2 separate regions of the Homo sapiens genome follow, and region 1 is linked to region 2. The links come from fine-mapping of genetic effects on gene expression. A gene starts in region 2. The other region holds a variant in brackets. All regions are shown on one strand. Distances are from middle to middle. Region 1 overlaps FRK (fyn related Src family tyrosine kinase). Region 2 holds the start of FRK (fyn related Src family tyrosine kinase).

The links. PIP is the estimated chance that this variant, and not a neighbour inherited with it, causes the effect.
Region 1: its variant is fine-mapped to the expression of FRK in subcutaneous fat (GTEx, PIP 0.93).

What each region holds. Positions count from the first base shown.
Region 1 is chr6:116,014,822-116,020,207 of GRCh38, forward strand. The region is part of intron 1 of FRK (fyn related Src family tyrosine kinase); the gene reads right to left. Among named protein-coding and RNA genes, the nearest start is that of FRK, 43 kb to the right of the region's middle. The variant GAAGA/G (reference allele first, on the strand shown) is at 2,328.
Region 2 is chr6:116,057,808-116,063,193 of GRCh38, forward strand. It overlaps FRK (fyn related Src family tyrosine kinase), which reads right to left and starts at 3,084. Exons shown (of 8, transcript NM_002031.3): 1 at 2,161-3,084. The coding sequence starts at 2,504.

The sequences.
Region 1 (5,386 bases), 43 kb before region 2:
AATTCTTCCATGACTAGAAACAAAAAAGAGACTTGGTCCAAACTTTAGAGGTGAAAAGAAATTTTCATAAGGATCTACAGGCAAAGGTGTTTTAATGAGTACATGCATTTTTTTCCGGGGAGATAATCCATTGTTTTATTAAATTCTCAGAAATGCCTGTGAAAGAAACTAACCAACTCTTTCAATAAGGCCAAGTGTTTCTTCTGTATTTACACGAGCTGGTGCCAAGGCCACAACCACAACCTACCACCTTGAAAATCACTTATTCATTTTTTATTCAAAATTTACTTATTGATATGGTTTGGCTCTGTGTCCCCACCCAAATCTCTCTCTAATTATAATCCCCATGTGTTGGGGAAGGGACCTGGTGGGAGATGACTGGATCATGAGGGTGTTTCTTCCCATGCCGTTCTCATGGTAGTGAGTTCTCACAAGAGCTGATGGTTTAAAAGTGGCAGTTTCTCTGAACTCTCTCTCTCCTGCCACCATGTAAGATGTGCCTTGCTTCCCCTTCCACCATGATTGTAAGTTTCCCGAGTCTTCCCCAGCCATCCAGAACTGTGAGACAATTAAACCTCTTTTCTTCATAAATTATCCAGTCTCAGGTAATATCTTTATAGCTGTGTGAGAACGGACTAATACAGAAAATTGATAGCAGTAGAGTGGGGCACTGCTATAAAGAAAAACTGAAAATGTGGAAGCAACTTTGGAACTAGGTAACAGGCAGATGTTGGACAGTTTGGAGGGCTCAGAAGAAGACAGGAATATGTAGGAAAGTTTGGAACTTCCTAGACACTTGTTGAACAGTTTTGATCAAAATGCTGATAGTAATATGGACAATGAATTCCAGGCTCAGTTGGTCTCAGATAGAAATGAGGAAGTTATTGGGAACTGGAGTAAAGGTCACTCATGCTATGCTTTGGCAAAGAGACTGGTGGCATTTTGTCCCTGCCCTAGTGATCTGTGGAATTGTGAACTTGACAGAGATGATTTAGGGTATCTAGCAGAAGAGATTTCTAAGCAGTGAAGCATCCAAGATGTGACCTGGCTGATTCTGAAAGCAGTCAGTCATATGCATTCACCAAGAGATTATCTGAAACTGGAACTTTTATTTATCAGGGAAGCAGAGCATAAAAGTTTGGAAAATTTGCAGCCTGATCATGTGGTAGAAAAGAAAAGCCCATTTTCTGGGGAGCAATTCAACCCAGTTGCAGAAATTTGCTTAAGTGACCAGGGGCCAAATGTTAATAGCCAAGACAATGAAGAAAATGTCTCCAAGGCATGCCAGAGATCTTCATGGCAGCCCCTCCCATCACAGGTCCAGAGGCCTAAAAGAGAAAAATGGTCTCATGGGCTGGGTACAGGGTCCTGCTGCTCTGTGCACCTTCTGGACTTGGTGCCCTATGTCTCAGCTGCTCCAGCTCCAGCTGTGGCTAAAGGAGGCCAAAGTACAGCAGAGCACAATCTCTATAGTAGGTTGACTATAGTTAACATTAATCTACTGTTCCTTATTTGAATGTTCCTAGCATGAAGAAAAGAGAAATAGTTAAGGTAATGGATATTCCAATTCAGATTATATTAATGTATCAAATTATCACATGTACCCAGAGAATATGTACATCTTTTATGTACCAATAAAAAATAATTTTAAAAACTATACTGTCTAATCTTAATCCATACATGACACAGAGACACACACACATATATGTGAATGAGTGGATGGATGTGTGTGTGTGTTTGTGTGTGTGTGTGTAGCTGCAGATACCAACATGGATGTACAGATATGTACTAGTTTTACTGCTTTGGGGGGATTAAAATGAAGCAGGTGCCCCCAGGGAGTCAAGGTGTGAGACCTGGTCTGCTACAGGTCAGAACAAGCACACACGTTCTCTTTCTTTCTTCCTTCATTCTTTCTTTCTTTCTTTCTTTTTAATAATTTAGCCCTGTATACCCAGATACTCACTAAGCATTACTATCATGAATAATTACCAATAATAACACCAATGTTAATAACTAAAGATAGTTTAAAACCCATGTAAATGCCACCCACTGGACTTTGAAATAGTAGAAACTGAACACATCCACAGAGCAGCTTGTTCTCAAAAAGAAAGCCTGAAACAGTGCCAGAAAACACATCTTTTGTTTTCAGTGTCAACAAACTATTTGTCAGGAAACAAAAGGAAGGCTCTGCCTGCACTGATGGACTTTTCTGAAATCTGAAAATTAGTTTACTGCTTGCTCCTGCTTAGAATTACAGAAAGAAGCAGTTGCACAAATACATTACAAGCTTACTCCTCAGAACTGTTGTGGAAAAAGGCAGACTGAGA[GAAGA/G]AAGAGCCCCCACCTCCCTACCTCCCAACACACACCCGTGTTACTGTTAAATCAAGCAGAAAGCTGTCTCCTTACACGTTTTAAGTTCAGCCTAAAGGTTTCTCTGTACACAGTGAACTGCAACCTAAATGGATGTGCAAACAGACTGTAACCTACTCTTGTGCCAATCACCAAGTTTTGAGCAACCAAAGGTGGCCAACTGTTCAAACCCTGTTCAAAATAAGGCAAACACCGAGCTGTAACCAATCCAGCTGTTTCTGTACCTCTTTTCAATTTTTCTACATCGCTTTTCTTTTTCTCTCCATAAGTCCCTTTCCACCAGCTGGACTCTGTCTGAGCACACTCTGGCTCAGGAGACTGCCTGATTTGCCAACAGTTCTTTGCCCAGTTAAACTCTGCTAAGTTTAATTTGTCGAGGTTTTTCTTTTATCACTACCTAAGGATTAACCTTCTCTAGGGCCTCAGTTCTCAAACTCCAGTTTCTGAAGACTGTCCCAGGAAGTGTGTACAAGGCAAATAGTCTAAGAAGGTCGGAGGTAGAGCTCAGGATGCTGTAGGTTCCCAAGTGCCACAGGCAATTCAGAGGCAGGTAACCAAGGTACTACAATTTGAAAAACACAGCTGTTTCTAGAAGAGGGGGACTTTCTCTTAACATCTTCTCCTAAATCCTGAGTCATCCTGCCATAGCCCACCTTGCACCTTTTTCTCTCCAGTCCACTCTGCCTCACACTGCCTCACACTGGACCCCACTTCTTTATTTTCAACCCTTACAAAACATTACAAATTCAATCCAAATGCTGTATAAAATTTGTGAAGAGCAAAGCTTTAAGTACAATACAGAGCAGAAAACAAGTTCAAACAGATACCAGAAATTTCTGTTCATTGAAATTTAATGTCCTTTCTGCTGAAGAGGGAATTTCCCAAAACTTTTTCCCTTATGTCTAGGGCCCCCTAATAGGTTGCTGAGGAACCACTCCTCTTCCTCCTTTCTCTGTGCCAGGGATTTTACAACAAAATTCTCCATGTTTCTGTATGCAAAGCAGTTTGATTTCCTACCCAACCCTTACTCCAAACTAGATTCTGGGTCTCCCTCTGTATACCCCAGCACTTCTTAAATTGTTCTGCTCAATTAAGGCCCATCTATTCCATGTCTTTATTCTCAGCAGCACAAACAGCCAGAGCTTTGAAAACAGAATTTTCTTTAGCACATCAAATCCTTAGGCAAAGCTCTTCTCACACCATTATCCATAGCAGATGGTAGCAACAGAATTATGCATCCTCTCGCTGTCCAGAACAAGCCTATACCCTGGGGTAAGGGTGAAAGGCAGAGTCCTTCCAGTTATATTTGTGTTTTAAATAATTCAGTTTATTAAAATTATAAGTGTCTTGAAGTAGACTAAAATGTTTGCTCTCTTACAAAGTGTTTTCATAAGAGGATATACTCTAATAATACACAATGGAAATATTATTTGTAAATAGCATGTAAACTATTTATATACAAATATGTGTTTTGAGAAACTGAAATATTCCCTGCCTCAATGACTGCCTTACTAGTAAGCATATTGCAATTAAATAAAATTTTATTCCAGAATTTTAGTGATACAAAGACATTTCCACCATGCTCTTTGCCTGGGATAATTTTTTTTTAATCATTGAAATACTCAGAGCATAATAAAATCTGACCTGTTCACTGTGACCCAGGAAAGGATTTTAAAATCTTATAGATTTGAAGAGACCTGCTGTTGGAAAGAGGGCACAGTAAAGGAACATCCTAAAGCCTTAGAATTAGAGCTTCAAGTAAGCTTGAGGAGCATATTTCTCTGAAGGTGAATGATAATAGATTCATTGCACAAGCCAGCTCCCCTCTGACTTATCTCCAGTGCATTCTTTGGATGGCAAGGCAAGGGGCTTGTGGTAGGAAAGCCTTCCTCTACAGATCAAATGAGTCTGAGCACCTTGTTCCTTTCCTTCATAGCTCTTTCCTTAGCTTACTTTGTTTTTGGTATTATTTGATTAATTCCTACTTCCCATTACACATGTAAGCTCAAGAGAGTGGAAACCTTATCTTTTACTTATCACTGAAATTCCAAGAGCCTAGCACAACACATGGTATTAAATAAACTTGCATTCATACTGTTGAATGAATAAACAGATGATTATTTGAGGATGTGAGTCTTCCACTTGAAAGTTAAAAAGCTGACCAAATAATTTCAAAACGTAGGACAAGAATATAGAGAGAATATACTGAAGATTTGGTACAGAGAGCAAAAGAACAAGTCCACTTTTACCAGTAATGAATAACCTCATAGCCAATCAGATGATCACAATCCTATGACGACGATGACAATTATAACAATCATGTAAAGAATAACATTTGGATTCCACTTTATAATTGAGTGCCATCACCTAGAATATGGCACTTATTCTCAAGGCAACTCTTGGGGATAGTCAGAGCAAGTGCTTCAAAATCCCCACTTTGTGGAAAAGGGAACTAGAAATGAGAGAAATTGCATGATTTGTCATGCAGAAATAATAAGCAGAGCCAGTGTGTTGGCAGATGTGCAAAGCAGTTACATGTGACTTCACTAAAATTGTGCAGAATAGAAAGTGGGGAGTATGGACTTGTCCTCAAATAATAATACCACTCTACAGAGTGGGTCAGAAATAGCCAATAGTTATGACTTATTAAGACCCAAACTTCAGGTTCTAAAAATGTTCCTGTAGAATAACAGAATATCTGTTTATGAAGTTAAACATTAACTCCTATTTGTTATTTAGAGGTAGGCTTGGTTGCATAAGGATTAAAATTTGAAAACAGAAAGCAAAATGAGATTCAAATAAATATTTATTTGCAATCCTAAATGTGCAGCTATTACCAATAATAAATTATGATCTTAAAGAAACTTTTCTAAACTATCAACAACAAAAAAATTGATCAAACATTTCAAAAGTAAAACCAAATTATGATTTATTCCATCTATAGAAAACAGTATTACAAAATCATTGTGACATGAAGAGCCAAAGAGAATGAAGACAAAGACTACCATAAAAAAAT
Region 2 (5,386 bases):
GCCTTATTTTGTGTTTGTAGGCAAAGAAAATCTAAATTAATAAGAACACTGCTCTCAAGCCTTTTACCCAGAATATGATACCTTCGGATTGCTTGACTTGTTTCAGTTAATTTGCTTTCTTCAGCATTTCTAATACAGTCAAGCATGAATGTAACTGAACCACTACATACGAACATAAGAGCTCCTGTTCCCAGATAGTCAGGAAATCCATTGGTCATGGCAACCCCAGAGAGTTGCAGATGAGGAAATTGAGGTCCTAAGTAGTTATATGAGTTGAATATATTTAAAACTAACAGATTATGAATTCAAGGCATGAAACATTAATATATTATTATTATAATATACATGTTATGCCAAATATAAAATATGCATAATGCCATACAGGACATAGAAATCATAAAGTAGTGAAAACAGATAAATGCACATAAGTGTATCCAATATATAAAGATATTTCCTGTAGATTATCACAGAAAGCAAATGTTCACACAGGTGATTTTCCCACTTGATAACTGATCAATTCCATTCATTAAAAGTATATTTCAATTCATTTCTATTTAAGCATAAATTAAGACCCTTCTAAACATTTATAGGTTCTTGGTGTTGAAAAGAATCTCAAAACTCAAAACTCGTCAAACCTCCCTTCATATGTGATGTATGAGTTTGGAAAGCAGAAACAATGCTCTATGGCTATTTATTATTATCTTATTCCCTGGACCAGTAAGGGACGCTCACATAAAAATAAGAAACACTTACATGAGAACATAAGAGAATCTCCAATGGTTTCCCTATTAAGAAACCATTCTATAAAATGAGTCCATTTTGGCCGGGCGCGGTGGCTCACGCCTGTAATCCCAGCACTTTGGGAGGCCGAGGCGGGCGGATCACGAGGTCAGGAGATCGAGACCATCCCGGCTAACACGGTGAAACCCCGTCTCTACTAAAAATACAAAAAAATTAGCCGGGCGTGGTGGCAGGCGCCTGTAGTCCCAGCTACTTGGAAGGCTGAGGCAGGAGAATGGCGTGAACCCGGGAGGCGGAGCTTGCAGTGAGCCGAGATCGCGCCACTGCACTCCAGCCTGGGGGACAGAGCGAGACTCCGTCTCAAAAAAAAAAAAAAAAAAAAATGAGTACATTTTTTGAAAGACATTCCCAGTCTAAGGTTTCACTGGATTCAGGAAGCAATGAGATCAGGGCCAATGACAGTCTCCATTTGCTTCCCAACCCACCAGACCCCAAGTATCCATTGTCAAGACTATGTTTTATCCACTTTGTATTCAGTCACTACTAGAATAATCTCCTTTACCCTCCCCAACTCACCAGGCCCACTACTGTCTATGCCTGGCACTTGGAGGGGTGGTAGGTGGATGGATGGATGGATGGATGGATGGGTGAATAAGTACATAAAAACTTTCCTCTTTTGTTGCAATATAATTCATATTTCATTCAAATACCAGGATAAAGTCTTTATCTCCTCTTCAAGGAGATGTTGTCCTTTTTCCTATCAAAATTTACCAAATGTCTGTAGCTGGCCAGTTTCTAATCATAATAAAAACCAAAAGATATCATAATTTGGGTAGCATATCTCAGGATCTGGGAATTAAAAAAAAATCTATATCATGATGTCACTGAGAACATTAGTATCTTCTAAGTGTTGTCTTCTACATTAGCCCTGTATATTCCCATCAGAATGAAAGGGATTAGGATTAGAGCTAGGGCTAGAGTTGATATATTACCCTGGAATGTTTCAAAAGTTTTTTTTAAAAAAAAGAATCTGAAGTTTAGATTTGAGAATATCATTAAGGGAAGTCTTATAATTTACCTTCAAACAAAATGCAATTTTATTGCTAAAGTGAGGCATGAGTTATTTTACAGCCAAAGAGAAGGTACAGTATTAAACACATCATTTGTTTATTTTGAAAATACACCCTGGACCTGTGGATGTACATACTGTAATTGAAGTCATCTCAACAACAATTACTGGCCAGTTTCACACTCACTTAGCGGGGGAGGTGTGTTTCAATTAGTGGTTTCTTGCCAGTACTTCCTCATACTTTTTAGGCAACTCTTTGGACATTAGGGGGTTGTAGAGAAGTAGAAAGGAAAACTCATTACCCAGCCCTCAGAGAGTTCAGAAATTAAGTATAAGTTTGTACTACTCACGGCTCTGCCTGTAGGCTTCTGTCCTCAGCCACGTAGTTAGAAGGAATATAGCCTTGTAGTTGCTGACTGGAGCCATCTCGTCTTTTCTCCAAGTGTCTGGCAAACCACCAGCCCTCATGCAAAGTGTCCAGAACTTGAAGTTTGTCACCTGCTCGGAAGCTCAAGTCCTCAGCAGTCCGAGCCTGGTAATCAAACAAAGCCACAAAGTAGTGGCCATGCCTCTGTGACTGGGGAGAGCAAAGGGCCCCTGGATTTTCAATCACGGTTGACTTGTCTGCCTCCGTGGACAAACAGGGGAGATAGGGTTCTAGGTACTCCCAGAGCCTCTGACAGATGTTGCTCATTGTGCCTTGGTGGGGAGAAGAGGAGCAGGGCTTCTCCCTCTCCCCTTAGTCTCTGCGATCCACCTTATCTTCCTTCACCAGGCAACTTTGAAGTCAGCACCAACTCACCATACTTCGGAGAGTATGCAAAGTCCCGTTTCAGATCAGTCCAGCAGCTGGGTTGCAGCAAGTCCTACCTGGAGAGACTTACCGGCTTGCTTTCTGTGGCTGGAGGTGCTACCCCGAGGCAAAACTGAGCAGGAGCTGGGCAGCTGCTCACTAGGAAGGTGTCTTTTCTTCTTATCTGCTTAAGAATCCCACAACAAAAATAAAATAAAATTAAAAGGGCTTTATTTAGACAAATATCTGAGAACAGAATGGTGCCATCTTGCCTTTTGTCCCAATAAAAAGTTAGCAAGAGGAAGCTACTAACCCCTGGTAAAACCTCCACGTCTTGCTTTCGCCAGGAGCTCTCCCCCTGTTTCAAGTCTGTTCCTGTCTTTCGACCAGTCCGGATCTGGACGGCTCTCTCCTTTTTGCTAATGAATAACCAACCAGCAGAGGCTGTTGCCTTTAACATTCTGAGCTATGAACAGACTGTAATAATTTCCCCTTACTTCCTGGTTTCTTTCTGTCTGTGATCTAAATGGTATTCTGACCTCTTTACCCCTCCCATCTCCCACACCCAAGATAGACCAGATCCTTTACCAAACTGTTAAAGCAGCCGCTAAAATCTATATTCCTTTTGTTTCATCCTGGAGAAACAGGCTAGCCCAGGTAGCTTTTTGTCTTGTTATGTTCCCAGCACTGAAATTCACGGCAGAGATTTTTTTCCCTGACAAATAGGAGTAGAATTGTTTTGCCACCACTAGGGGAAATTTAAAAAGGCAAATTAAAGTATTTAGGTATTTCTTGTCAGACACAGAGCAATTGGAAAAGAACCATCAAGTCACTCCCTTTTCTCATTACCAAGAATAGATTTTAATAGCTTCAAAGAATAGTCACAGTCTGGAAAAGTAAGAAAGCAGCTGACTAAAATGCTGAGAACCCAAAATGTTGCTTTTTCCCACAGACATTTAATTTCCTATCCTTCAAGTACTATTTGGGAAACACACACACACACACACACACACACACACACACGCTACACACCAACTAGGTGACCAGTAGAGAAAAAAAGAGTAGAACAGAAAAAGAGCTCTTTGCACACTGCTGTGGGGGCTCTTTCTGCTAAACTTTGACCTCCAGATCTATGCTAGTTCTTACTAACTTGGCAAGAACTCAGGAACTAATGAGACTGACATCAGGACAGCCATCTCTAGACAGGCAGTGGTTTTTGCTTGACCTTCCCTAGTTCGGAGCAGCTGTCTCACAAATATGTGCCCTGGCAAAAACAGCCGGGCAATGAGTCTGGCAGATCAACGTACGGTCATTTATACTAGTAGACAGCATTGCAAACTTGTTTATGAAGTGTCACTGATCTCTCTATAAGACTTTTTTTTTATTTCTTTCTTAAAAACAATCTTTCTAAATGTTGTGAGACCCTTGAACCTGGCTAACCTATTCCTAGTACAAGCTCATAACTTCTGTTCTTTTTCAAATTGCAAGGCATTTAGTAATCAGAATAATCAAACTCAAGAAAAAGGAAGAAAGAAAGGAAGAAAGAAAGAAAGAAGAAAGAAAAGAAAGAAAAAGAAAGAAAAGAAAGAAAGAAGGAAAGAAAGAAAGAAAGAAAAGAAAAGAAAAGAAAAAGAAAATCAGAGAACCATGGCATCAGCCCAACCTGCTATTACTTTGTGCAAAAATCAGTCCATAGCAGTGGACAGATCAATTGGTTAAAATAAAATCTTGTGTTATGCTCCCAAGTTTCTCCAATTGTCTTTGGAGTCAGAGTACAAATAACAAGTTGACAGAAGTATAAAAGCCAAAAGCTGAGCCAAATTTTTGTTGTTGCTGTTGTTGTTTTGTTTTATAATGATATGAGACCTAAAATAGACTGTATATGTAATTTCATATTATATACAAAACAGAAAATATATAATACCAAATGACCATAAAGGATATTTTGTTCCAAATACAATAATGGATGTAAAAGCATAGGATTCTATTAATGCCCCAACAGAGGCACAGATGCTGAAGTCTTCCCTGAGACATCTACATGATCTAAAAATGAAAAAAAAAAAAAGAAAAGAAAAGAAAGAAAGATTTGGAAGCAACCTGAGAGATGTATTCAAACCCAATTTGTAAGTGGGGTTTTAGATTTTTGAATTGTCGGGGTTCTAAATTCAGATATACCTTTACTATAGTTATGACAAGGCATTCTGGAAAAAGACAAAGCAGCAGACCTGCACACCACAGTCATTGAGCAAGTGAGTGAAATTCAAAAAGCGGCCAACCATCCAAAGATGTCAGGTGAGCAATGGCCTGAGAACGCAGAGCTGAGGGGTGGAAAGAGAGAAGGTTTCTTTGTGTCCATAGTACCAGAATTCTCCAGTCACTCAATCTCCAAGTCTTGCAGTTATCTTTCGTTTGCTCCCTGGTTTCTTTGAGCTAATCAATCACTGAATTCTGCTCAGTCTTCCTTTTCATTTATTCCACAAACTTTTTTTAAAGCTCCTTCTGAGCGACAGCTGGGCACCAGACAGAAAACAGAATATTCTTTCCTAGATTATTCCAGAGGCCTCCTAACTGATCTCCCTTCCTCCAGCTTATTCCCATCTCTGGCTCATCTTGCACACCAAGATGAGTGGTGTTCATAATAGTTTATAGAGTAGTTTTTATAATAGTAACAATGACTGAGGTGATAAGTCATTCCTAGTCATTACTAGTAAGAGTAGCTATCTGTTTGGAAAGCTTTCTATGTGCCAGGCACTGTACTAAGAATGTTAGAAATAACATCCAGG